Regions from separate parts of the Homo sapiens genome. Here all the other regions are linked to region 5. Evidence: fine-mapped expression QTL. A gene starts in region 5. Each other region holds a variant in brackets. All regions are shown on one strand. Distances are between the middles of the regions.

Region 1 (5,102 bases), 28 kb before region 5:
ACTGAGTGCATTTGCTTCCCAAGGCTGCCATAACAAAGTCCGTAAACTGGGTGGCTGAAAATAACCGAAATGTATCCTCTCACAGCTCTGGAGAGTAGAAGTCCAAAATTAAGGTGTCATGGGCTTGGATCCTTCGAAGGGCTATGAGGGAGAATCTGTTCTCGGCCTCTCTCCTTGCCTCTGGTGTTTTGGTGGCGATCTTTGTTGTTCCTTGGCTTGTTGGCGCGTCACTCCAATCTCTTCATCTTCACATGGCCTTTTCCTTGTGTGCATCTCTGTCTCTGAGTCCAAACTTTCCACCCTAATGTCTTCATCTTCACTTAATCATCTGCAAGGACCCCATTTCCAAATAAGGTCACATTCACAGGCACTACGGGTTAGAACTTCAACATCTTTCAAGGGAATGCAATTCAATCCGTAACACTGAGGAGTTAGTAAAAATAGTTAATATCTATGAAATATCAGGAACTGCCGTGACAGTCATTTTATATACATTATTCTTAAATTTTCTTTTCCTTTTTTTCTTTTTTTTTTTGAGATGGAGTCTCACTCTGTCACCCAGGCTGGAGTGCAATGGCACGATCTTGTCTCAATGCAACCTCCGTGTCCCAGATTGAAGCAATTCTACCTCAGCCTCCCAACTAGCCGGGATCACAGGCATGCACCATTACACCTGGCTAATTTTTGTATTTTTAGTAGAGACAGGGTTTCACCATGTTGGCCAGGCTGATTTCGAACTCCTGACCTCAAGTGATTTGCCCACTTCAGCCTCACAAAGTGCTATGATTACAGGCATGAGCCACCACGCCCAGCCTATATACATTATTCTTAATCCTCACAAAGATGCCCTCATTTTATAGCTGTAGAAACTGAGGATAAGAAAACTTATGGGGCTTATACTAAATTACATAGCTAGAAAGTACAAGCTCTGGAATCAGATAGGCTGGCTTCACCACTTACCTGTGTGAAGCCTTGGGCAAGTTATTTTAACCTCTCTGTGCCTCAGTTTCCTCATTTGTAAAATGAGGATAATAATCATGATTCTTTCATTCATGCTGAGTTGTTGCAAGGATTTTATTTATTTATTTTTTTCTGAGTTATATTATGTGCCAGGTTCAATATTATTGTTTTATATACCTATCTGAATTACATTTCCCCATGTCTTTGTGAGACATGTCTTTGTGAGACAATAACTATTGTTATTCCCATGGAGAAAGATGAAGAAAGTGATGCATAATGCGGCCAAGTAGCCAGGGTCATTCAGCTAGCCCCAGGAGTCAGATGGGACCCAGGTTTGGGGGACTGCTGCTTGTGCTACCTCCTGATTACTAATTAAGATTCTTCAGTATCTTGATACAGGGAAGAGGTGTCCTGGTTGGCAGGCAGGAGTATCCTGGTCAATGGAAAGTTATATCCTTCCATTGTAAGTTAATGAATTTGGTAAGCAAGAGTCACCCCTTGAGCCCAAGCACCTCTTAAAAGCACCTCTGGTCACTGAAAAAGAGTTTCTCAACTGCCATCTTTTATTCAACAAATACTTATTGAGCAGCTACTATGTGCCAGGCCACTGGAAATAAAGCAGAGAATGAGATGGACAAAGAGCTCACATTCTAGTCGGGGTGGACAAACATGTAACCAAATAAGCAAGACTAGTTTTCAATATGTGAGATGCTATGAAGACAATAAAATGGTATGATAAATAATGACTAAGGGAGTCAGTAAAAGGTCACTGTGAGCAGGTGGTACCTGAGCTGAGACCTGACATGATCAGCCAGTTATGAGACTCTAGAGAAGGGTGCATTAGGCACAAGGACAGACAGTGCAAAGGTCGGAGTGAGATCTGCATGTCAGACAGACTACAGGGTGGTGGCCAGGATGGCTGGAGCAAGGTGAGAGGTAGAAAGTATGATGCAAGATGAGACTGAGAGCTGGGTATGGGCCTTGCAGGCCATAGAAGGGATTTCAGTTTTATTCTAAGCACAACTGGAAACCCGTGGAGGATTTTAAGCAAGAGAGTAATATGCCCAAACTCTAAATCATTTTGATTCTATCAAGGT[C/A]TACCCTTCCACGTAGAGCTTCCCTCTAACGTAATCTTGTAATCTTGAATTTCAACAGATAGAAACATTTAAAGAGCCAGATAGTAAAACTGGTAATGCCACTCCATCTTGCTTAAGTTACAATCTCTCCTTTACAGGATTCCACAGAATTCTGGCAATCACCATTTCACTTACGTGATGACTGTAATTCATATTCTCGTGAAATGTTAGAATATAATGGTCCACATTTTATGAATGAACAAAACAAAATATGAATATCTTCTTTAAGGTCAATAATAGAACCAGGAAAGAAACTGAGAAATCTTTCTTTGTTACATGTGTTTTTTTTTTTTTGTTTTTTTTTTTTTTGAGATGGAGTCTTGCTCTGTCACCCAGGCTGGAGTGCGTGGCATGATCTCAGCTCACTGCAACCTCTGCCTCCCGGGTTCAAGTGATTCTTCTGCCCCAGCCTCCCGAGTAGCTGGGACTACAGGCGCATGCCACCACGCCTGGCTAATTTTTTGTATTTTTAGTAGAGACGCGGTTTCACCGTGTTAGCCACGATAGTCTTGATCTCCTGACCTCATGATTCTTGCCTCGCCCTCCCAAAGTGCTGGGATTACAGGCATGAGCCACCACGCTCGGCCTATTAAATGTGTTTTTAACACAGTCCACCTTAATTTCTCGTTCCATACAACTGCACGTTCTGAGCACATTTCTTGCATATTGTATTGGTTTTACTCTCCTGCTGGTACTCAGTCCTGCAGTAGGTGCACTTCACAACAGGGTGTGCAATCCGACATTCCTTGCACAGCTGCTGCCCCTGAGACAGCACCTGGAAGGGGAAACGCTGGTGGCACTTGGTGCAGGCGTAGAGCGCCGCCATGTCCGGCCCGGGCCGCGCTCACCGACCCGCCAGCCCGGCCCGCTGATTTATCTCGTTGCAAGGATTTTAAAGATAATGCACAGAGGGCCGGGCACAGTGGCTCACGCCTGTAATCCCAGCACTTTGGGAGGCCAAGGCGGGCAGATCACGAGGTCAGGAGTTCGAGACCAGCCTAGCCAACATGGTGAAACCCCGTCTCTACTAAAAATACAAAAATTAGCTGGGCGTGATGGCGGGTGCCTATAGTCCTAACTGCTTGGGAGGCTGAGGTAGAGGAATTGCTTGAAACTGGAAGGCGGAGGTTGCAGTGAGCCAAGATCATGCCACTGCACTCCAGCCTGGGCGAAAGAGCGAAACTCCGTCTGAAAAAAAAAAAAAAAAAGGTAATGCACAGAGCCTGGTACATAGAAATTACTGAATTCATGGTAGTTGTCGTTATAAGTCGTGGAGTCAAGATTTAAATCCACATCTCCTTAGCTCCAATTTCTTCATTCTTTTCTCTCTGATCCAGCATAACCAGGTGTCAGGCACTTCTGTGTCCATGATCTCATAGAATCTTCATAATACCTCTGTGAGGTGAATATTTCTGGCTAGCTTTTATGCTTGTAGGAAATAAGGCACAGAGAGGTGAGGTGACTTTACCAAGGTAATCCAGTAAATAAAGCATTCTATTCTAGCTCCACGGATTCTAATATTTCTTCCCCTATGTTACCTCTCATCCCAGTGCATGGAGGTTCACAGGCATAATATAAAGGAACATTTTCCTCTACAATGGTTTGCTAATAGCCTCTATATCTAAGGTAGTCAGTCAAGATTATGAGCTAAGTCAGTGGCCCAACCTGAGACTATGACAGGCAGAGTTCTGTTCCCATAAGAGTCAGCTCCTGCCAGGTTCAGAAAGCTCAGGCCACAGAATATGCTGTTAATCTTGAGAAAGTCCTTCAGGAGAAGGAAGCTGTCTCTCCCTCTTTTTCTCCCTCTCTCTCCCCTGCTCCTACACCACACACACACACACACACACACACACACACACACACAATGCTTATAAGAGTCTTCACCCTTGGGACAAGCAACTAACCATTGAAAAGAGATCGGTTATATAAGACTTTTCTGTTCGGAAGCCTGAAAAGTGAAAACCAGCTGTGATATGGTTTGGATCTGTGTACCTGCCAAATCTCATGTTGAAATGTAATCCCCAGTGTTGGAGGAGGGGCCTGGTGGGAGGTGTTGGGTCAGGTTGTCTAAAGTGCGTGGCACCTCCCCTACTCTCTCTTGCTCCTGTGTTTGCTGTGTGACGTGCAAGCTCCTTGCTTTGCCTTCTGCTGAGAATAAAATCTCCCTGAGGCCTCCCCAGAAGCTGAGTCCTGATGCCAGCACAATCCTTCCTGTATAGCCTGCAGAAACATGAGCCAGTTAAACTTCTTTTACTATAAACCACCCAGTCTCAAGTATTTCTTTATAGCAATGCAAAAACAGCCTAACACAAGCTGCCAGGCCCAGTTCATAGTTCCCCAGCAAACCAGTGCTAGGGAGGATTCCAAAAGACAAAAATAGAAAGAAATTCCAAAAATGCAAATACCTCAGAGAGGAATGCTTTTGGGTTTCTTCATCAGGATAGAAAGAAAGTTAGAGCAGCAGAAGCCTTTTGCTGGAGCTTTCTCTGATCCTCCCTGTACCACCTCTGCCCAGCGGCTCTCCACACCACAGCTTAGTCCTGCAGACACCTGGGGAGAACAGACATTTCTGTAGCTACCCAGGGGCCTCATCTGGCACTTAGACAAGTTTTGTTCCACCTGCACACATTTTTAAGTAGTTGCTAAAAATTTTAAATTATGAGATTTTACCTAAGCTTTTGGATTTTTGTTGTTTTGCTTCTTTTGAAAAATCAAAGGTTCTGGCCAGGTGACTGTATTCTTGAGTGGTGTGAGCTGGAGTTGGGTCATGGTTGCCTCCTGATTATTTTTATGCCTAGACCACTAATCTTGTCTAGTCCCTGCAAGAATTCGGGTTTTTCACTTCAGGCCAACTGTGACCTCAGCTCTGCCTGTCAAATGAAACAGATGTGGCTTTGCCTTGGCATTCAAAAATATTTCTAAGCATGGCTTATTCAGACTTACCACTCATGACTACACTTCGTTCAAAATTTTTCTACTCCTTCATCCTCTAACAGATATCTTATT
Region 2 (5,102 bases), 58 kb after region 5:
CTTCCTTTTAATAAGAGAACTAATCCTACCTTCTCTGACTGGGCCTCTTTCAGTTGAGGGCTGGCAGAAAGAGCGACAGCATTTCGAGAGCTATTTGCCAAAGCAAGTTGCAAGTTTTTGACAATAACTTCTGAGAGTGGCGTACTCGGTTTCCTTTTCTGTTGGCTGGGACGTCCTGGAGTTTCCAAGGCTGCAAGTGCATCCTATACATATGAAGGAGAGAGAGAGATGGAGAAAAGAAGAGAGAGAGAGAGAAGCAAGATGGGTTAATAGGACAGGAAAAAGAAAGAGGAGGAGAGAGGGGTAAAGAGAGAGAAGGGGGAGAATCCTCAAAATTAATGGATTACAGTTTAACTTCCTCTAGTTTTCCTCCAAATAACAAGAAAAAGAATAAACTATAATCAAATCCATATACTGTGAACAAAAATTCCATACTGTCCAGCAAATTGGTTCAAAGAGACTAACTAGCTTACATTTTCAGCAGTGCTTGTCTCTTACCTGAATCTTAGAGTTGAATTTGAAAACAAAACAAACCAAAAAAACCCAGAAGGAAACAAATAAGCAACGACGGATATAATCAAGAAATGGATTATAAGGAAGGTTAGAAAGTCAAAATGAGCTGAGAATTAAAAAAAAAAAAATCTTCAAAAGTTCAAAATATATTCCTGTTCTAAAGCCACCAACAGTTCCCTCCTGAAAGGAAGCTACTGTTGTCCAAATGGCTTGCTCATTCTCTTTTGCATGTGTATAGTATTCCATGTATGTATCAGAATGTATTTAACCTGTGTACAACTGATAAGCTTTCGGTTAACAGTCTTTTGCAAGTATAATGATGCAATGAATAACCTTGTACACAAACCATTTTGCACACACAAGAGTAAAGGAAACCTTTTAAGCAAAATGTATCTACCAGCCCAGTGCAGTGGCTCCTGTCAGTAATCTCAGCTACTCCAGAGAAGTTGAAGCAAGAAGACAGCTCAAGACCAGGAGTTTTGAGACGAGTCTGGGAAACACAGTTAGACCCAATTTCTTTTTAAAAAAACTAAAAAAACAAGACCAACATGTATCTACCAATGTTGACATTTTCATGAGCAAAGTATGAGTGTGTGTGTTTTCCAAACGTGCTTGATATCACAGTAATCAGATTTTTCTTTTTTGACAATCTGATAAGACTAAAAAATTTTATCTGTATGCTTTAATTTTCTACTCTTTTATACTGAATGAGGTTAAATATCTTTATATGTGTGTGTGTGTGTATATATATATATATTTTTGAGACGGAGTCTCGCTCTGTCACCCAGGCTGGAGTACAATGGCGCGATCTCGGCTCACTGCAACCTCTGCCTCCTGGGTTCAAGCGATTCTCCTGCCTCAGCCTCCCGAGTAGCTGGGACTACAGGCATGCACCACCATGCCTGGCTAATTTTTCGTATTTTTAGTAGAGACAGGGTTTCACCATGTTGCTCAAGCTGATCTCAAACTCCTGACCTCATCATCCAACCGCCTTTGACTCCCAAAGTGCTGGGATAACAGGCGTGAGCCACCGCGCCTGGCTATATGTATATTTATATCTAATTTTTTGTGATAACTATCTGCTCCTATCCTTTGCCCATTTTTCTACTGGGTTGTTAGTCTTTTTTTTAATATATTCGCTTGTATGAATATACTTTTATATTCATTTGTATGAATTTATATGTGCATGTATCAACTGTGATATAATACCCACGTATTTATTTTCAATTTATCATTTGTCAAATTTTTGCCATGGAGCTTTTTTTTTTTTTCAGAGATGGAGTCCTGCTTTGTCACCCAAGCTGGAGTACAGTGGCATGATTATAGGTCACTGTAACTTCTAACTCCTGGATTCAAGGATCCTCTCACCTCAGCCTCCCAGGTAGCTGGGACTCCAGATGCACAACCCTGTGCTCAGCTAATTTTAAAATTTTTCATAGAGACAGGGTCTTGCCGTCTTTCCCAGGCTGGTCTCAAACTCCTAGGCTCAAGCAATCCTCTCGCCTTGGCCTCCCAAAGTGCTGGGATTACAGGTGTGAGTCACGGTGACTCGCTGTAATTTTTTTGTTTTTTGAGACGGGGTCTTGCTCTCTTGCCCAGAACGGACTGAAGTGGCTCAATCTTAGTTCACTGCAACCTCTGCCTCCAGGGCTCAAGCAATCCTCCCTTGTCAGCTGGGACTATAGGTATGTGCCATCACACCCAGTTAGAGAATTTTTAATGCTGTCAAATTCATACGAATCTTCTATTTCTTTTGGAGTGTATGTTATAGTTAGGCCTTCCCCACACTAGGATTATTTTAGAAACAAATTCATGACATGTTTGGGAATTTTTATGGCTTCATTTCTTATGTTTAAATCTGATCATCTAGGCTGGGTGTGGTTGTTCACGCTTGTAATTCCAACACTTTGGGAGGCCAAGGCAGAACTGCCTGAGCCCAGGAGTTCTAGACCAGCCTGAGCAACATGGTGAGACTCTACCTCTCCAAAAAATACAATTAGCTGGGCACAGTGTCATGTACCTCTAGTCTGAGTTACTCCAGAGGCTGAGGTGGGAGGACTGCTTGAGCCCAGGAGGTCAAAGCTGCAGTGAGCCACGATGATGCCACTGAACTCCAGCCTAAGTGATAAAGTGAGATCCTATTTCAAGAAAAACCCCAAAAGTTGATCATCTAAAAAGTATTCTGATGTAAAGTGTGAGCTTTAATTACAAACGTATTTTCAGATGGCTACCTAATTGTCCAATTTGAATGCCACCTTTATTACATAATAAATTCCCCTATTTGTGGAGTATAATCTTATACACTAACTTGATTATTCACGTGACACCACA[C/T]TGTTTTAACTACTGCAACTTTATAGGAGGTTTTAATAAACGGTAGGGCTACTGCCTACCTGCAATTATACTTTTCAGATTTTTTTTAATATTGTTTCTGCTTGCATTTTTTTCTAGGACCTACATTACCTTTTGATATGGTTTGGATTTGTGTCCCCACTCAAATCTCATGTTGAACTGTAATCCCCAATGATGGAGGAGGAGCCTGGTGGCAGTTGACTGGATTATGGGGGCGGATTTCCCCCTTGCTGTTCTTGTGATAATGAGTGAGTTCTCATGATATCTGGTTTGAGATGGAGTCTCACTCTGTTGCCCGGGCTGTGGCGCGACCTTGGTGCAATGCAATCTCTGCCTCCTGGTTCAAGTGATTCTCTTGCCTCAGTCTCTCGAGTAGCTGGGATTACAGGCATATGCCATCACACCCGGCTCATTTTTATATTTTTAGTAGAGATGGGGTTTCGCCATATTGGCCAGGCTGGTCTTGAACTCCTGACCTCAGGTGATCCACCCACCTTGGCCTCCCAAAGTGCTGGGATTACAGGCGTGAGCCACTGCGCCTGGCTGATATCCAGTTGTTTAAAAGTGTGTGGCATCTCCCCCCGCTATCTTTTCCTCCTTCTCCAGCCATGAAAGACGTGCTCACTTCCCCTTCATTTTCGACCGTGATTGTAATTTTCCTGAGGCCTCCCCAGTGGTGCTTCCTGTACAGCCTGTGGAACTGAGTCAATTAAACCTCTTTTCTTTATAAAGTTGGACGTGGTGGCTCGCGCCTGTAATCCCAGCATTTTGGGAGGCTGAGGTGGGTGGATCACTTGAGGTCAGGAGTTTGAGACCAGCCTGCCCAACACAGTGAAACCCCGTCTCTACTGAAAATACAAAAATTAGCCGGGTGTGGGGGTAGGCGCCTGTAATCCCAGTTACTTGGGAAGCTGAGGCAGCAGAATTGCTTGAACCCAGGAGGCGGAGGTTGCAGTGAGCCGAGATCATGCCACCGCACTTCAGCCTGGGTGACAAGAGCAAGACTCCATCTCAAAATAAAAAAATAAAAATAAGAATAAATTACTCGGTCTGGGGTAGTTCTTTATAGCAATGTGCAAACAGATTAATACACCTTTATAGATCTTGACAATGTTTAAATCTATTTTGCAAGAACATGGTAAGTCTTTCTATATGCTAAACTTTTTAAAATTTCTTCAAAGCATTTTAGAGGATTCCTTATATAAAAATCAGAAGCTCCCATACCACATCTATCTGCCTTCAGCACACGTGCCACTAGTACCTTCCTCTACTTAAGAAGTAGATCCCAATGCCTCTCAGACTCAAGCCTCCTGCAAGTCTTCCTTCTCTCATCTGCATCATCAATTGGCTCTCTAATGGCAGTTACACTGGCATATAGTTATTTCTTCTTCTTTTTTTGAGACAGGGTCTCAGTTTGTCACCCAGGCTGGAGTACAGCGGCATGATCACTGCCCACTGCGTCCTCTATCTCCTGGACTCAAGCAATCCTCCTGCCTCCGCCTACCAACTAGCTGGGGCTACAGACGTGCACCACCACACCCAGCTAATTTTTGTGTATTTTGTAGAGACAGGGTCTTGCCATGTTGCCCAGATTTGTCTTGAAATCCTGGACTCAAGTGATCCTCCCGTCTTGGGCTCCCAAAGTGCTGGGATTATGGGCATGCACCACTGAGCCTGGCTATTTCTTCCACCTTAAAAAGAAAACAACCTTCTTTTGACCCTACTTTGCCCCATAACTACAACTCCATTTCTTGGCTCCCCTTTATGGCAAGATTCCTTCAAAAATCGTTGTTTACACTCAATGTCTCCGATTCTTCTCATTTCTTTATGAACCCACACCAGCTTCCACCTCCATCATGCCACCAAAACCCTTATTGTTATGATGACGCCATTGACCTTCATAATGCTCAATCCACTGGCCAATTTTCTATTCTCACCTTTCTTTATCTTAGAGCAGTCCTGGACATAGTTAACCCCTCCTCCCTCTTTGAAATACTTGGCTCTTTGAAATAAGCTCTAGGCTTTCCTCTTCTCTTATAGCTCCTTCTCAGTCTCCTTTGCTGGTTCCTCCTCTAAAGGTGAGCACCTCAAGGTGTTGCTTAGAGCTCTTTTCTTTGGCTGGACGTGGTGGCTCACACCTATAACCCCAACACTTTGGGAGGCCAAGGCAGGAGGATTGCTCAAGTCCAGGAATTTAAGGCCAGTCTGAGCAATGTGGTAAGATCCCCGTATCTACAAAA
Region 3 (5,102 bases), 160 kb before region 5:
GTGAGAGGGCTGGGGCTGGAGACAGGGCAGGAGCAGGCTTACTTTGGGGTATATACTCTTTGACACTGTTTGGAGGTTTTACCTTAAATAAAATATGCAGTAATAAATAAAAGTCCTGTCAGTGGCTTTTGGGGTGGGGGAAGCAGTAATTCCTATCAGGTCTTGGGGCAGGGGAAGCCTTCAGAACTCCACGGAAGCAAGAGAACCTTTCTACTGACGTGTCCCGGTGGGAGAGAAGACCCATCTCCACAGCTCCTCTCAAAACAAACCCAGCCAAATTAAACAAGCGTACAGAAGAGCAATAGGAAAGATGTTCTAAAGGGCTACACTCTCCAGAAGAGCTAAATTAAAACTAATCCAGGCAGCTGGCACAAGTGCTGAGGACAAATGTGGTGGCTTTTTACGGGGGAATTAGTGAAAGAATGGCTGAACCAAGCAGAATGTTACTCAGGGTCCCCAGCGCTCTCCCAGAGGGTTTATGCTGATCCACCGAATTTGAGGACTCAATTTAGGCAAATAAAACCTAGTTTATTGTCGTCTGGCTGGGGAAAAGCACATAAAGACTCATTGATCTGGTTGTAAACGAGCTAGTAGAGCTGGCTGTCACAAGTGCATTATTCAGCAGAAACGAGAAGTGATTTCAGCAGTCCTCAGGAGGGAGTGAATGCAGGGCACAGGAGTGGAAATCTCCACCACCAAACTGACCACCACTGGAAAACAACTTGTCCTTTTTAGTTACATGTTTATTGCAGGACCAACGAATAACCATCTAAATAAGCGCTAACTAAATAACACTACAGTGTGGAAGTTAGAAAGCCCCCGCATTTCAGCAGGCTCTGGGAAAAATTATGCAGAAGACAAAGTCCCCTGCTGAATGTAACTGCCCACGCCTGCCTGGCCCCTGTACTCACGCCCTACTCATCCCTGTCCGCTCCCGTCTACTCACCCCTGCCCTCTCTCCCCTACTCACCCCTCTACTCACCCCTGCCCTCTCCCCTCCACAAACCCCTCTACTCCCCCCATCCTCTCCCCTCTACTCACCCCGTCCTCTCACCTTACTCACCCCTGCCCTTTCCCCTCTACTCACCCCTGCCCTCTCTCCCCTACTCATCCCTCTACTCACCCCTGCCCTCTCCCCTCCACAAAACCCAGTACTCACCCCTGTCCTGTCCCCCCTACTCACCCCGTCCTCTCACCTTACTCACCCCTGCCCTCTCTCCCCTACTCACCCCTCTACTCACCCCTGCTCTCTCCCCTCCACAAACCCCTCTACTCACCCGTCCTCTCCCCTCTACTTACCCCTGCCGTCTCTACTCACCCCTACCCTCTCCCCTCTACTTACCCCTATACTCACCCCTGCCCTCTCCCCTCTACTCACCCCTGCCCTCTCTCCTCTACTCACCCCTGCTCTCTCCCCTCTACTCACCCCTCTACCTGCCCCTGCCCTCTCCCTTCTACTCACCCCTCTACTCACCCCTGCCCTCTCCCCTCTCCTCTCTACTCAGCCCTGTCCTCTCCCCTCTACTTATACCTGCCATCTCGTCTCTACTCACCCCTCTACTCACCGCTGTCTCACTCCCCTCTACTCACTCCTCTACTCACCCTGCCATCTCTGCTCTACTCACCACTGCCCTATCCCCTCTACTTACCCCTGCCATTTCCCCTCTACTCACCCCTATTCTCTCCCCTCTACTCACCCTGCCACCCCCCCCCCGCTTACCCCTCTACTCACTCCTACCACGTCTGCTCTATTCACCCCTGCCCTCTTCCATCTACTCACACCTGCCCTCTCCCCTCTACTCATCCCTGTCCTCTCCCCACTACTCACTCCTGCCCTGTCCCCTCTGCTCACCCCTCTACTCACCCTGCCATCTCCCCTCTACTCACCCCTGCCATCTCTCCTCTACTCACCCTTGTCCTCTCTCCTCTACTCACCCCCCTACTCATCCCTGCCCTCTCCCTTCTATTCACTCCTGTCCTCTCCCCTCTACTTGCCCCAGTCCTCTCCCCTCTACTCAGCCCTGCCTCCTCTGTTCTACTTACCCCTCTACTCAACCCTGCCCTCTCCCCCGTCCTCTCCCCATCCTCTCCCCTCTACTCAACTCTGTCCTCTCCCCTCTACTCACCTTTGCCCTCTCCCCTCACCTCTGTCCTCTCCCCTCTACTCACCCCTGCCCCCTCTGCTCTACTCACCCCTCTACTCACCCTTGCCCTCTCCCCTCTACTCGCCCCTGTCCTTTCCCCTCTACTCACCCGTGTCCTCTCCCCTCTACTCACCCCTCTACTCAACCCTGCCCTCTCCCCTCCACAAACCCCTCTACTCACCCCTGTCCTCTCCCCTCTACTCAACCCTGTCCTCTCCTCTCTACTCACTCCTGTCCTCTCCCCTCTACTCACCCCTATAGTCACCCCTGCCCTCTCCCTATTCACCCCGTCCTCTCCCCTCTACTCAGCCATGTTCTCTCCCCTCTACTCACCCCTGCCCCCTCCGCTCTACTCACCCCTGCCCCCTCCGCTCTACTCACCCCTCTACTCATCCCTGCCCTCTCCCCTCTACTTACCCGTCATCTCCCCTCTACTCACACCTGCCATTTCCCCTCTACTCACCCCTCTACTCACCCCTGTCCTCTCCCCTCTACTCATCCCTCTATGCACCCTGCCATCTCCCCTCTATTCATCCCTGCCATCTCCCCTCCACTTACCCTTCTACTGACTCCTACCACCTCCCCTCTATTCACCCCTGCCCTCTTCCCTCTACTCACCCCTGCCCTCTCCCCTCTACTCACCCTCGCCCTCTTCTCTACTCACGCTTGCCCTCTCCCCTCTACTCACCTCTGTACTCAGCCCTGCCATCTCCCCTCTACTCGCCTGACCTCTCCCCTCT[G/T]CTCACCCGTCTACTCACCCCTGCCCTCTCCCTTCTATTCACCCCGTCCTCTCCCCTCTACTCACCCCTGTCCTCTCCTCTCTACTCATCCCTCTACACACCCTGCCATCTTCCCTCTACTCACCCCTGCTATGTCCCATCTACTCACCCGTTCTCTCACTCTACTCACCCCTGCCCTCCCCCTTCACCACTGTCCTCTCCCCTCTAGTCAGCCCTGTTCTCTCCCCTTTACTCACCCCTGCCCCCTCCGCTCTACTCACCCCTCTACTCAACCCTGCCCTCTCCCCTGTCCTCTCTCCTCTACTCACCCCTGTCCTCTGCCCTCTACTCAACTCTGTCCTCTCCCCTCTACTCACCCGTCCTCTCCCTTCTCCTCACCCCTGTCCTGTCCCCTCTACTCATGCCTGCCCTCTCCCCTCTACTCACCCCTGCCCTTTCCCCTCTACTCTCCCCTATACTCAACCCTGTCGTCTCCCCTCTACTCATGCCTGCTATCTCCCATCTACTCACCACTCTACTCATCCCTGTCCTGTGTCTGCCCTCTACTGACCCCTGTTCTCTCCCCTCTACTCATCCCTCTATACACCCTGCCATCTCCCCTCTACTAACCCCTTCCATCTCCCCTATACTCACCCCTGCCATCTCCCCTCTACTCACCCCTGTCCTCTCCCTTCTACTCACCTCTGTCCTCTCCCCTCTACTCACCCTTGCCCTCTCCCCTCTACTGACCCCTCTACTCTCCCCATCCTCTCCCCTCTACTCACCCTTGCCCTCTCACCTCTACTCACCCCTTTACTTGCCCCTACACTCTCCCTTCTACTCACCCCTGCCCTCTCCCTTCTATTCACCCCTGTCCTCTCCCCTCTACTCAGCCCTGTTCTCTCCCCTTTACTCACCCCGCCCCCTCTGCTCTACTCATCCCTCTACTCATCCCTGCCCTCTCCCCTCTACTCACCCGTCCTCTGCCCTCTACTCACCCCGTCCTCTCCCCTCTACTCACCCTCTATGCACCCTGCTGTCTCCCCTCTACTCACCTCTGCCCTCTCTCCTCTACTCACCCCTCTACTCCTTCCTGCCATCTCCCCTCAACTCATCCCTGCCCTCTCCCTTCTACTCAGCCCTGCCCTCTCCCCTCTACTCACCCCTGCCTTCTCCCCTCTACTTACCCCTGCCCTCTCCCCTCTCTCATCTCTCTACTCACCCCTGCCATCTCTCCTCTATCCACCCCTCTAGTCACCCCGCCTCTCCCCTCTACTTACCCGTGTCCTCTCCCCTCTACTTACCCGTGTCCTCTCCCCTCTACTCACCCTTGCCCTCTCCCTTCTGCTCACCCCTGTCCTCACCCCTCTACTCGGCCCTGCCATCTCCCCTCCACTCACCCCGTTCTCTCCCCTCTACTCACCCTGCCCTCTCCCCTCTACGTACCCCTGCCATCTCCCCTCTACTCACCCCACCCTCTCCCTTCTACTCACCCTCATCCTCTCCTCTCTACTCACCCCTACCCTCTCCCCTCTACTCACCCCTGCCCTCTCCCCTCTACTCATCCCTTCCCTCGCTCCCATCTCCCCTCTACTCATCCCTTCCCTCTCCCTTCTACTCTCCTCTCTACTCACCCCTGCCATCTCCCCTCTACTCACTCCTCTACTCACTCCTGCCATTTCCCGTCTACTCACCCTTGTCCTCTTCCCTCTACTCACCCCTGCCCTCTCCTCTCTACTCAACCCTGTCCTCTTCCCTCTACTCACCCCTGCCATCTCCCCTCTACTCACCCGTCCTCTCCCCTCTACTCACCTCTGTCACCTCTCCTCTATTCACCCCTCTACTAGACCCTATCCTCTCCATTTTACTCACCCCTGCCCTCTCCTCTCTACTCACCCGTCCTCTCCCCTCTACTCACCTCTGTCCTCTCCCCTCTACTCACCTCTGTCCTCTCCCCTCTACTCACCCCTGCCATCTCCCCTCTACTCACCCGTCCTCTCCCCTCTACTCACCTCTGTCATCTCCCCTCTATTCACCCCTCTACTAGACCCTATCCTCTCCATTCTACTCACCCCTGTCCTCTCCCCTCTACTCATCCCTATCCTCTCCCCTCTACTCACCCCTCTAGTCCCCCATGCCCTCTCGCCTTAACTCACCCCTGCCCTCTACCTTCTACTCACCCCTGTCCTCTCCCCTCTACTCACCCCTGTTCTCTCCCCTCTCTTCCCACCTCCTCAGC
Region 4 (5,102 bases), 83 kb after region 5:
TATTACAAAGTAGTATTTTAGCTTATTGCCTAATTATATTTTCTATGTGTAGTATAAATACATATGCCATGTGAGAGGTTTTATCTTTTATACAAACTGCAGGAAGACAGAAGCAACTGTGGGGTAACTTAATTAATATTGGACTTGGGTTTGCATATAGGCTCCATCACTTAATTTCTTTAAACCAGCTTGTACAATGTGAAAATTGTAAATTTGTGCTATATAATAAATCCCAACTTTGAACAGACTATTCCAATGTCAACAGGCTTCTACTTAAAGTCCAGGATAGATAAGCCAAAAGATAAATTATATTGAAAATATGTATCTTTTATTACCTTAAAAATCTTCAACACAATGTATTTTGAAGCAGTATCACAGAGGAATTGAGGTCAATATGTCACATGAAAGGTTTTTTGGCATTCTTGAGAGAATCAACAATGAACTGTCTTCAGATTCAGAAAAAGAACAGCAGTATCAACTCTACTCACAGTGATCCTATCACAATCAGCCATACTCAAAGTTCTGACTTAAGGACAATTACCATTTAATCGTAATTTCTTCTCAATCTAGATAGCTTAGTAAAACACAGTATACATATAAAGGGCAATAATAAAAACATTAACAAAACTCATCTTTTATCAATTTGTGTATATTTTAAGAGTGCTGATAAAAAATTATCCAGAATAATGTTATGTAACACCAAACTTAATAGCAATTTTAAAGAATTTTTCTTGTTCGTAATGTCTTTTTCATTTTTTACTGCCTCATGTGCCGCAAGGTGTGTCTTCCAGTTAAAACTTTGCAAGATGTTAGAGAAAACATCTTTGCAAGATGTTAGAGAAAACAGTATCAAACTAGATTAATGACATGTCAGAAGTAAAAGCTGTTCTGTAAAGATTTTAAAATATTAAATATTAGTGGCTGGGCACGGTGGCTCATGCCTGTAATCCCAGGACTTTGGGAGGTTGAGGTGGGAAGATCAATTGAGGTCAGTTAGAGACCAGTCTGGCCAACATGGTGAAAGCCCGTCTCTACTAAAAATAAAAAGTTATTCAGGCGTGGTGGCAGGTGCCTGTAATCCCGCTACTCGGGAAGCTGAGTTGGGAGAATCGCTTGATCAAGGGAGGCAGAGGTTGCAGTGAGCTGAGATTGTGCCACTGCCCTCCAGCCTGGGCAATAGAGCAAGACTCTGTCTCAAAATAAATAAATAAATAAATAAAAATAAAATATTAAATACTAGAGAAAATGTTTCATTTGTCCCTTTGTGAAACACAGTTTTACCTTTTGGTTCTTGCACAATGAGGTGTGTACATTCATTCATTTTCAATTGTCCCATGTATTGACCTCCATGCTTAACTGTGAGTTGCTGAACTTCTTTCCTGTCTAAGCCACATAAGCCAGTCACACAGATTATGCAACCAAGAAAAATAGGACACTTGAAATCTTCCATGTTTATATCAGTATATCTAGTTATTTTTCTGTGGGAATCAAATGGTTAAAAAAGAACATATTAAATTTACCAGAAGAATAATGAAAAACAACACAAATATCACTATTGCTTCCCTCATTTTTTAGGATTTATAATCTTTTTTTTACAAAGGAGAACCACCAAAACAGAATTACACTAATTGTTCACCTAGTTCAATAACATGTCTCTAAAACAAAGTAATTGTTTCAGATACAGTCTCTCAAAACCATTTTAAGGGAAAAATATATATTTCCTTAACTCTAGCCCTTGCTGGTCATAGTATATTTTCCAAAATGATAAGTCTGAATCTCTACTTAAAAACCCAAAGGTAATTTGGTTGCCTATTAGATAAATGAACTTTTTAATCTTTCCATTATTCTATACAAGTAAAAGCAATGATTTTTGGCAAAATACCAACAAAAATATCATTATTCTGTTGCCATGCTAGGGAGGTGTGCTGATGAAGTAATCACATTGGGAATGAGAGTTGCTGACATGGAGACATATTTGGGATATGCTGGATGGTGTTGAAAACAAGCCCAGAAAAGTGCCGATATAATTCGTATGCCAATACAATTCTGTGGTGTTTGGTCTTGTGGTTGTTTATCTAGTTGCAGGGGAAACTGAAGTGTGCCCCTTGAAATAGGCTCTAAGCTCCATGAGGGAAGTGACTATC[T/C]TGTTTTGCTTACTACATATACCTAATGCCTACCTCAAGTCAGATACGTAAAATGGGCTCAATTAGCATTTATTAAATGATCACATCTCAGCTGATGACTTGCATATGTTTATATTCAACCTTACATATGCCATCTTTTGGAAGGAATGCAACTGCCAAAATGACTAATTTATTATCTATCTTAACATATGGGAATGGTGTTGAAGGATAATGCAACATAAAAGCTACAGAATTGCCAAACTCGTTTTCTCAATTATTTCAGAAATATTTACAGCTGAGAACTTTATCACCAAAGCATTTCCTACTCTGTAGCTAATGCTAAACCCTTGGCCCATTCTATGCCTGTCAACTTATATCTTGGTAATAAGAGCTTGTAGATTCTGCTCTTCCGTTTTCGCTGGAGAAAAGAGTAATGACACTATTTTTTTCCCTGAATAGTAAGTCCAAAGAGTATATCACATGCCAAAAATGATTGAATGCATCATTTTTTCAAATCTAGAAAATATAAAAATGTCTTTCTTACTTCTCTTGTGACTTCTCCCAAAGTGTTTTTATCCAAGAGGGAAGCAAAATAGGTTTCTTCAGGTTTGCAGCAACTAAATATTTTTTGCTACCAACTTCTCCTGCAATAAGGTGAGTTACTGATACATTAAGGTCTCTGTATACTCGTCCGCCCATCATTTGTACATATTTATGAACTTCTTCCTGCAGCCCCAAAAGAGAACACATTAATGCTGAAGCAAACAATATTGCTTCCACTTTTATACACTATCTCATAAATACATTTTGCTGTTGACAGTTTGAATACATAAGTGTTACATAACATTATAAAGTTAAATAATTAACCAAATTATTTTTTGGGAGATAAGTATGAATTATATTTTTAAAATATTATTTTCCTATATTTATCCCTTTCAACTCCATGAATGTATTAAACTATTATACAAAGGATGTATAAATCTTAATCTTTGCTTCTATATAAATATACATGTGTATTTTTAACAACATAAATTATATCTATATAATATATAAATATTTATTTTTAGCCAGGCTTGGTGGTGCATGCCTGTAATTCCAGCTACTCGGGAGGCTGAGGCATGAAGATTACTTGAGCCCAGGAAATCAAGGTTGCAGTGAGTTGTGATTGTGCCACTGCACTCCAGCGTGGGTGACAGTAAGACCCTGTCCCAAATATATATATGTATTTCTATAGCTCTCTCTTAGAATGCTTTTTTTTTTTTTTTTCCAAAACGAAATCTTGCTCTGTCACCCAGGCTGCAGTGCAGTGGCGTGATGTTGGCTCACTGCAACCTCCACCTCCCTGATTCAAACGATTTAGAATCCTTTTTTTTAAAGACTGTCCACCTATAGTGGAAAAATGTAAGTGATTAAAAAATGAGTGTCCTTTTAAATTAAAACAAAAAATTTCAATTAGCCAGTTTTCAACAAAACAAATTCTACTATATTCAATTTACTTAAAAAATGTACATGTATACATATATACACACTGTGGTTGTATACTGAACTTTGTTAAAAGTCACGAACAATAAGCGGAAAGTCTTTTAAGCTATCTTCTATGCAGTGAAAAATTAAGAATAAGAGATAGATATATAAATTGATCAATCATCATGAGATCAATATCTACCCTTTTTTCTTTTTCCAGACTTGTACAAGATATGGTTACATCAGACATAACCATATTATAAACTGGATGTTCGGCTCTTGGGACACATCGCTGGTGGTGCATACAAAATATGACTACTTGAGGACCAACAATTCTGCAGCCAAGCTACAAAAAAGAGAAAAGTTTAAATGAGTTAAGAAGGAAAAGACCACCAGTCTTACAAAATTACATTTTGTAACATTCACCAATTCTTTACCAAAGTTGATGACCACTGTAGAGAAATCAGCAAATCATTACAAGAAAAAAATAAAGATGACTATATAATTTCTCAGAGATACTATACATTAAACACTCACACACAAAAGCAAATCAAACAATGCAAGCTATCAAAAGAAATAAACTTCAGGCCAGGCACAGTGGCTCACGCCTGTAATGCCAGCACTTCAGAGGAGGCCGAGCGGGGGTGGATCACCTGAGGTCAGGAGTTCGAGACCAGCCTGGCCAACATGGTGAAACCCCGTCTCTACTAAAAATACAAAAATTAGTCGGGTGCAGTGGCGGGCACCTGCAGTCCCAGTCTCTAGGGAGGCTGAGGCAAGAGAATTGCTTGAACCCAGGAGGCGGAGGTTGCAGTGAGCTGAGATCACGTCACTGCACTCCAGCCTGGGCGACAGAGTGAGACCCTATAACAAAAGAAAAAAAAAAAGAAAAGAAAAGAAATAAACTTCAAAAGCCCCTTTCACTGAAAACTGCCTTACTGCTTACATCTATAAGCCCAATATTTTGGGAGGCTGAGGTGGGAGGATCACTTGAGTGCAGGAGTTCAAGACCAGCCCAGCCTGGCCAACATCGAGAAACCCTTTCTCTACTAAAAATAAAAAAATCAGCCGGGTGTGTATATACATCTGTAATCCCAGCTACTCAGGAGGCTAAGGCACAAGAATCACTTGAACCAAGGAAGCAGAAGTTGCAGTGGGCTGAGCTTGTGCCACTGCACTAAAGCCTGGGCAACAGAACAAGACTCTGTCTCCAAAAAACAAAAACAAAAACAAACAAACAAACAAAAAAAGCCTACTGTAACATAATTAGCCTTTCAATCCTGGTCTTGCCAAACCAAAAGAATTCCAATGTACTCATAAGTTGCATAGTACTTTATAATCCGCAAAGAATGTATGTCCATTAAAGCAAAGATAAACCAAAAAATAGACTACCAAAGGTACACACTAGAAGTCAGCAAACCTTTTTGAGGTGATCAAAGACAACGCCACTAAAAGGGTCACAGATATAAAGTGATCTATCATTCTCCTTTATCTTCAATGCCTCTTCTTCTGTAA
Region 5 (5,102 bases):
GTAGGGGAGGTTTAAAAGGAGCAACTGATGGGAACAGATGCTGTCAATTTTAGGGCAGGTGATTCAAAGAGGAAGGGACCAGCTTCACAGAGGAGAGAATTACTACAAACAATGACACAACCACAAAGACACTGGTCTCTCTACTGGCCTGACCTGAATTTCTTACACATGATCAAGTTCTGGGATCATGCCATCAATCACACTGAAAAATGTAGTGGGAAATTCTGCAGCGTCAGCCCTCAACTACTGTTCCTTCTGTGTATTTTCTCAAGTCATTAATTCTTTCAAGACAATGATGAATTGATAAGGACTTAAGAAAGATATAAATAACTGAAACTTATTTATATCTAGATCTTCTCTTCTAGATTATAAGGGAATTGAATGCAGGAATCACAAATTACTCACTTTTGAATAAAGCACTTTGCCCGAAATATAGCAAAATAAGTGCTTCATAGATGAGGAAAGAAAGAGAGGGAGAGGGCCGGGCATGGTGGCTCACACCTGTAATTCCAGCACTTTGGGAGGCTGAGGTGGGTGGATCACGAGGGTCAGGAGTTTGAGACCAGCCTGGCCAACATGGTGAAACCCCGTCTCTACTAAAAATACAAAAATTAGCTGGGTGTGGTGGCGGGTGCCTGTAATCCCAGCTACTCAGGAGGCTAAGGCAGGAGAATCGCTTGATCCTGGGAGGCAGAGGTTGCAGCGAGCTGACATGCCATTGCACTCCAGCCTGGTGACAAGAGCAAGACTTTGCCTCAAAAAATAAGTAAGTAAATAAATAAATAAATAAATGAAAGAGAGGGAGGGAGGAAGGAAGAAAGAGGGGGGAGGAAGAAAAGAAGGAAAGAAAAGAGGAAGGGAGAAAAAAGAAGGAAAGAAAAAAAAGAAAGAAAATAAATTTGATTAGCGATGGTAAGGGAGGGTGATGGTGATGGGCAGTACTGAACCTGGCCTGCATCACAGGAAGATATATGTTGTCATAGAAGGAAGTCACCTTGGGAGCTGTTCATGTTTGGGGAATAGTATATGTATAAGCTCAAGCTACTTGCTGGCCAAGGCTAGGTCCTTGATTTCTTTTGACATTCAGAAGTTAGACTTTTTTTTTTTTTTTGAGACGGAGTTTCACTGTTGTTGCCCAGGCTGGATTGCAATGAGGCGATCTCGGCTTACTGCAACCTCCGCACCCCCGGGTTCAAGCAATTCTCCAGCCTCAACCTGTAGCTGGGATTACAGGCGTTAGCCACTACGCCCGGCTAATTTTCGTGTTTTTAGTAGAGACGGGGTTTCATTATTTTGGTGAGGCTGGTCTCGAACTCCTGACCTCAGGTGATGCGCCTGCCTCGGCCTCCTGAAGTGCTGGGATTACAGGCGTGAGCCACCGCGCCCAGCCAGAAGTTAATTCTTTAATAGCAGTGTAAGTAGGGGGTAGGAAAAGAGAAACTTTAATGGGGTAACTGTAAAGGAAAAGACGAAGAAGTCTCTCCATTTACTGGCTGGATTCTATCTACCCCATATGGCTACCAACATTTGTCTGAGTCATTTCCTCAATGGTTGTGACAGCTCCCTCTTCTGCTTTTAGAAGGAGGAAGTAGAAAGTTTAAGAGCTTACTTTAGACCACCTTTTGCATATAGAATTCATTTCATTTTCAAGGCCCCAAGGGTATTTAAATGGGCTTTAAACCCATTTAAACCTGGCTTTCGCCTGGGCATTTTGGTCTCCACCCCTATGATAAGACAGTCCCCTCCTTTTATCAGGGATAGAAGCTAAGGATAAACTGTATCATCATCTAGACTCAAGTCAGGGCGTTAAGCAATGTGCTGAGCAGCTAATAATGTTGACTCTCTTCCCTCCATCCCCCTATCTTGTAAGAAATAGTATACCCACTTTACAGATTAGGGACTTGACGATAGGATTTATTGAACTTGACCTTGGTAAACATAATCCAGAGGGTGGAGTTCAGACAAAATCCCTTTCTACCTACCAACCAGCCTATGAAAGATCTTTTAGTAAATGGGACCTAAACTTCAGGCTCACTGCTCCTCTCACTTTCACAATCAACCGGTAAAGAAGAAAAGTAATGGTTGCCACTCCAGAGGGGGTGGAAGTACAGAAGCGATCAGAGGAGAGGAACAATCTTTAACACAGTTGGCTTAACGCAGTGCCTGTCCGTTTCGCGACAGTTCAAACGACTACTATGGGGCCACGGTTTGTTCTGGGCCAGGAAACACACGTGCATCCTGCGCATGCGTCCAAAAGGAACCCACTGCCCCTCCTGCTGGACCTCTTTAGCCAAGTCATCAACCAGCCCTCAACATGCCCGCCCTCAAGACTAAACCCTCGGCCAATCGGGAAACCGGAGTCGCCCGGCACGTCACTTATTTTGCATATGCCCTCCTCTCCCCGCCCCCATGCTTGGACTCCGCCCCGTCTGGGTCAGGGATTGTCACCTAAGAGCTTCGTCCTGGCACCTGATTGGCTCTCTTTCCAGCTCCGCCTCCATCTCCTCCCGCCGCCCGCCCCTTGGCGATCCCACAGCGGCAGGCAGAGCAAAATACGCAGGCGCAGGCGCTTCCTCTCTCTTCTAGCGGCCCGCCCTCCCTCCTCCCTCTCCCTCCCCTCCCCACTCCCTTCCCCTCCTCTCCAGGCCTGCGCGCGCGCCTCTTCCTCCGGCACGCGCCGCTGCTAGCCGAGCACTCTCGCCAGAACCTCTGGCTCGCGCGTGCCTTTTCCCCTCAGGTTGTGGGGAGAGCGGAATCCTGCTCCGCCGTCGCAGCAGCAGCGGCAGCCCCGGCAGCCTCGGGCGACAGCGGCGGCGCGCGAGCCCCCGGGCGGACCGTACCACCGCTCGCCAGCACGCAGGGGGAGCCGCCCGTCTCGCCGCGCACGCCTCGGCGACCCCGCGGGGCTGAGGCGTCGCCGCGCCCGGCAGCGTGAGCGCAGAGCCGGCCTCGACCCCGAGCTCGGAGCCCCGCGGGCCGCGCCCGCCGCCGGCCCCACCCATCCGGGTCGAGGAGGCCGAGGCCATGGCTGAGACGGAGGAGCGGAGCCTGGACAACTTCTTTGCCAAGAGGGACAAGAAGAAGAAGAAGGAGCGGAGCAACCGGGCGGCGAGTGCCGCGGGCGCAGCGGGCAGCGCCGGCGGAAGCAGTGGAGCCGCGGGTGCGGCGGGCGGCGGGGCGGGCGCGGGGACCCGGCCGGGTGACGGCGGGACCGCCAGCGCGGGGGCTGCGGGCCCAGGGGCCGCCACCAAGGCTGTGACGAAGGTGAGGGGCCGGGAGGCCGGCACTCGGGGCCCGGGCCGCGCGCCGGCGCCCCATGTGCCCGCCCCCGCCTGCCGGGGAAGCGTCCGGGAGGGGCCGCGGAGGCCGGGCGGACGGGCGCGGGCCGCCACGTGACGCAGGCTCTCCACCTCGGGCTGGGCTCGCCAGGGCCGGGACCCCTTCCGATATCCGCGGTGGAGCCGCCCTTCCCACCCCGCGTCGCTCGGCGTTAGCCAAGGCCCGGGCGGCGCCACCCTCCGGGGGCACTAGGTCTGGGGCCGCAGTGCCCAGCACAGAGCAGCGTTTATCGGGTGACGTCTAGGCTGAGTAATTCCGTGTGCTGACCTCAGCCCAGTAGTTTGAGCTGAATTTTCGCTTTCAGCAGCCGCATTTGTAGCAGCTCTTTTGTGATGACTTAGTCTCTAAGCCCGTGAAAGAAAAAGAAAACTCTCGGTGGCAAGGTTGAAGTAGAAATGTAGTTGTGAAATTCCTATTGACTTCTTCCTTCGGCTTTTCTTAGTTGCTTAAAGTAACAGCTCCCATGCAGGAACCCAGCGGAAGTATAGTGTTAGCCTACGAGCATGTTTGTCCTCCATTTAGCCTAGTTTGCCCCAGAACGAAGCAAGGGCTTTGACCAGAAGACAAGTACATACTTAGTTTAGGTTCCAGCCACTTGATCCACTTTTCGTAGTGTGTTATTTGCTTAGTTATATGTCTACAAATAGCTTTAATTGATCAAATGGCGTTTGTTTTACAGGACGAAGATGAATGGAAAGAATTGGAGCAAAAAGAGGTTGATTACAGCGGCCTCAGGGTTCAGGCAATGCAAATAAGGTATAGTCTGGTTACAAATGTGTTTAGATAACCTTTGGGATAGATATTGGATACAAGTTAGGTTTTCCTTTGGCCCCAAAGCAGCATCATAGTAGCCTTGTGCTCTAGATATGCTTATTAGGACTCAAATGGGTTCTGTCTACTCTTTCTCACTCCATGGAGGCAGCCCTTCCGTGTGCTCATGAAATTAGCTGCTGACTCTAAAATCCTGTGAGAGCTTGCCTACTTCCAGTTCTGGTTAGGACTTTTCATTTGAGACAGCTAAAGTGGATTTTGTCGCTTCAAAATTTTTACTTTTAACATCGGTGATTGTACTTAGTTTTGGTTTCAAAAGTAATGTGGATGTTTTTCACATCCTCTCCAATAAGCAAGTGAATATATGTTTTTGTAATTGAAGTATATCATACTTACAGAGAGATAGAGGTTTTATGTGTTCACACAGTGCAACCAACCTGTGCAATAAGCACCAGGTCAAGAAACTGAGTATTACTGATACAGAACAAGGTTCCCCTCCTAACACATACTCACTGCATTCACCTTCAACATAACCACTATTCTAACACCATAATTTTTTCTAAAACTTCATAGGAATGGAATTATATTTGTAAACATGTTATTTTTTAAAGTTCAAAAAAATAGTAATTTTTAAAAATTGGGTAGTTTAGAAGATTTGAAATTAACATTTTGTCAAGTCCAGTCTATGGCAGTCAACTTTAAGGTTGATGTTAAGTAAGTGCTATATTTTGGAGGGTTCATAAAGTAGGAAAAAACAAATGAAGATATGGTTCTGCTGTAAGATGAAAAAATCCTTTGCTCCCGGTTTAAAGAAATAAAGGATCTTGATAAACTGTCTCCAGTTTGAAGGTTGCATTTTATAGGCAATGCCAGTGAGTGCGAGGCACAGTGGAGGAAATACTTTCCTTAACTGAAAACTGTCTTTTGACTTCTCTGGATGTTAGTATCTATAGCTTTAGATAACTTACTCAAAAAGCAGGGTTAATATTATT

Direction of the effects. Positions count from the first base shown, and alleles are read on the strand shown. Sizes are in standard deviations (SD) of each study's normalised expression. Not every link is listed here.
For the expression in prefrontal cortex of the gene that starts at base 2,666 in region 5, T is the high allele of the variant in region 3 and G is the other (moderate effect, 0.69 SD a copy in ROSMAP).

Evidence for each region. PIP is the estimated chance that this variant, and not a neighbour inherited with it, causes the effect.
Region 1: its variant is the best candidate, but not a certain one, in a credible set for the expression of CDV3 in adrenal gland (GTEx, PIP 0.74).
Region 2: its variant is the best candidate, but not a certain one, in a credible set for the expression of CDV3 in whole blood (INTERVAL, PIP 0.86).
Region 3: its variant is the best candidate, but not a certain one, in a credible set for the expression of CDV3 in prefrontal cortex (ROSMAP, PIP 0.81).
Region 4: its variant is the best candidate, but not a certain one, in a credible set for the expression of CDV3 in whole blood (INTERVAL, PIP 0.90).

The regions. Positions count from the first base shown.
Region 1 is chr3:133,543,350-133,548,451 of GRCh38, forward strand. It overlaps the pseudogene FAM76AP1. Among named protein-coding and RNA genes, the nearest start is that of CDV3, 28 kb to the right of the region's middle. The variant C/A (reference allele first, on the strand shown) is at 2,058.
Region 2 is chr3:133,628,531-133,633,632 of GRCh38, forward strand. TOPBP1 (DNA topoisomerase II binding protein 1) reads right to left here. Exons shown (of 28, transcript NM_007027.4): 15 at 30-203. Among named protein-coding and RNA genes, the nearest start is that of TOPBP1, 31 kb to the right of the region's middle. The variant C/T (reference allele first, on the strand shown) is at 2,845.
Region 3 is chr3:133,413,083-133,418,184 of GRCh38, forward strand. The region is part of intron 1 of BFSP2 (beaded filament structural protein 2); the gene reads left to right. Among named protein-coding and RNA genes, the nearest start is that of BFSP2, 16 kb to the left of the region's middle. The variant G/T (reference allele first, on the strand shown) is at 2,885.
Region 4 is chr3:133,654,009-133,659,110 of GRCh38, forward strand. TOPBP1 (DNA topoisomerase II binding protein 1) reads right to left here. Exons shown (of 28, transcript NM_007027.4): 3 at 5,008-5,102; 4 at 3,790-3,933; 5 at 2,668-2,849; 6 at 1,282-1,478. Among named protein-coding and RNA genes, the nearest start is that of TOPBP1, 5.4 kb to the right of the region's middle. The variant T/C (reference allele first, on the strand shown) is at 2,145.
Region 5 is chr3:133,571,021-133,576,122 of GRCh38, forward strand. CDV3 (CDV3 homolog) reads left to right here and starts at 2,666. Exons shown (of 5, transcript NM_017548.5): 1 at 2,666-3,264; 2 at 4,019-4,095. The coding sequence starts at 3,025. RefSeq lists enhancers at 1,655-1,894, 1,837-2,338, 1,995-2,164 and silencers at 2,545-3,084, 3,105-3,214, 3,245-3,634.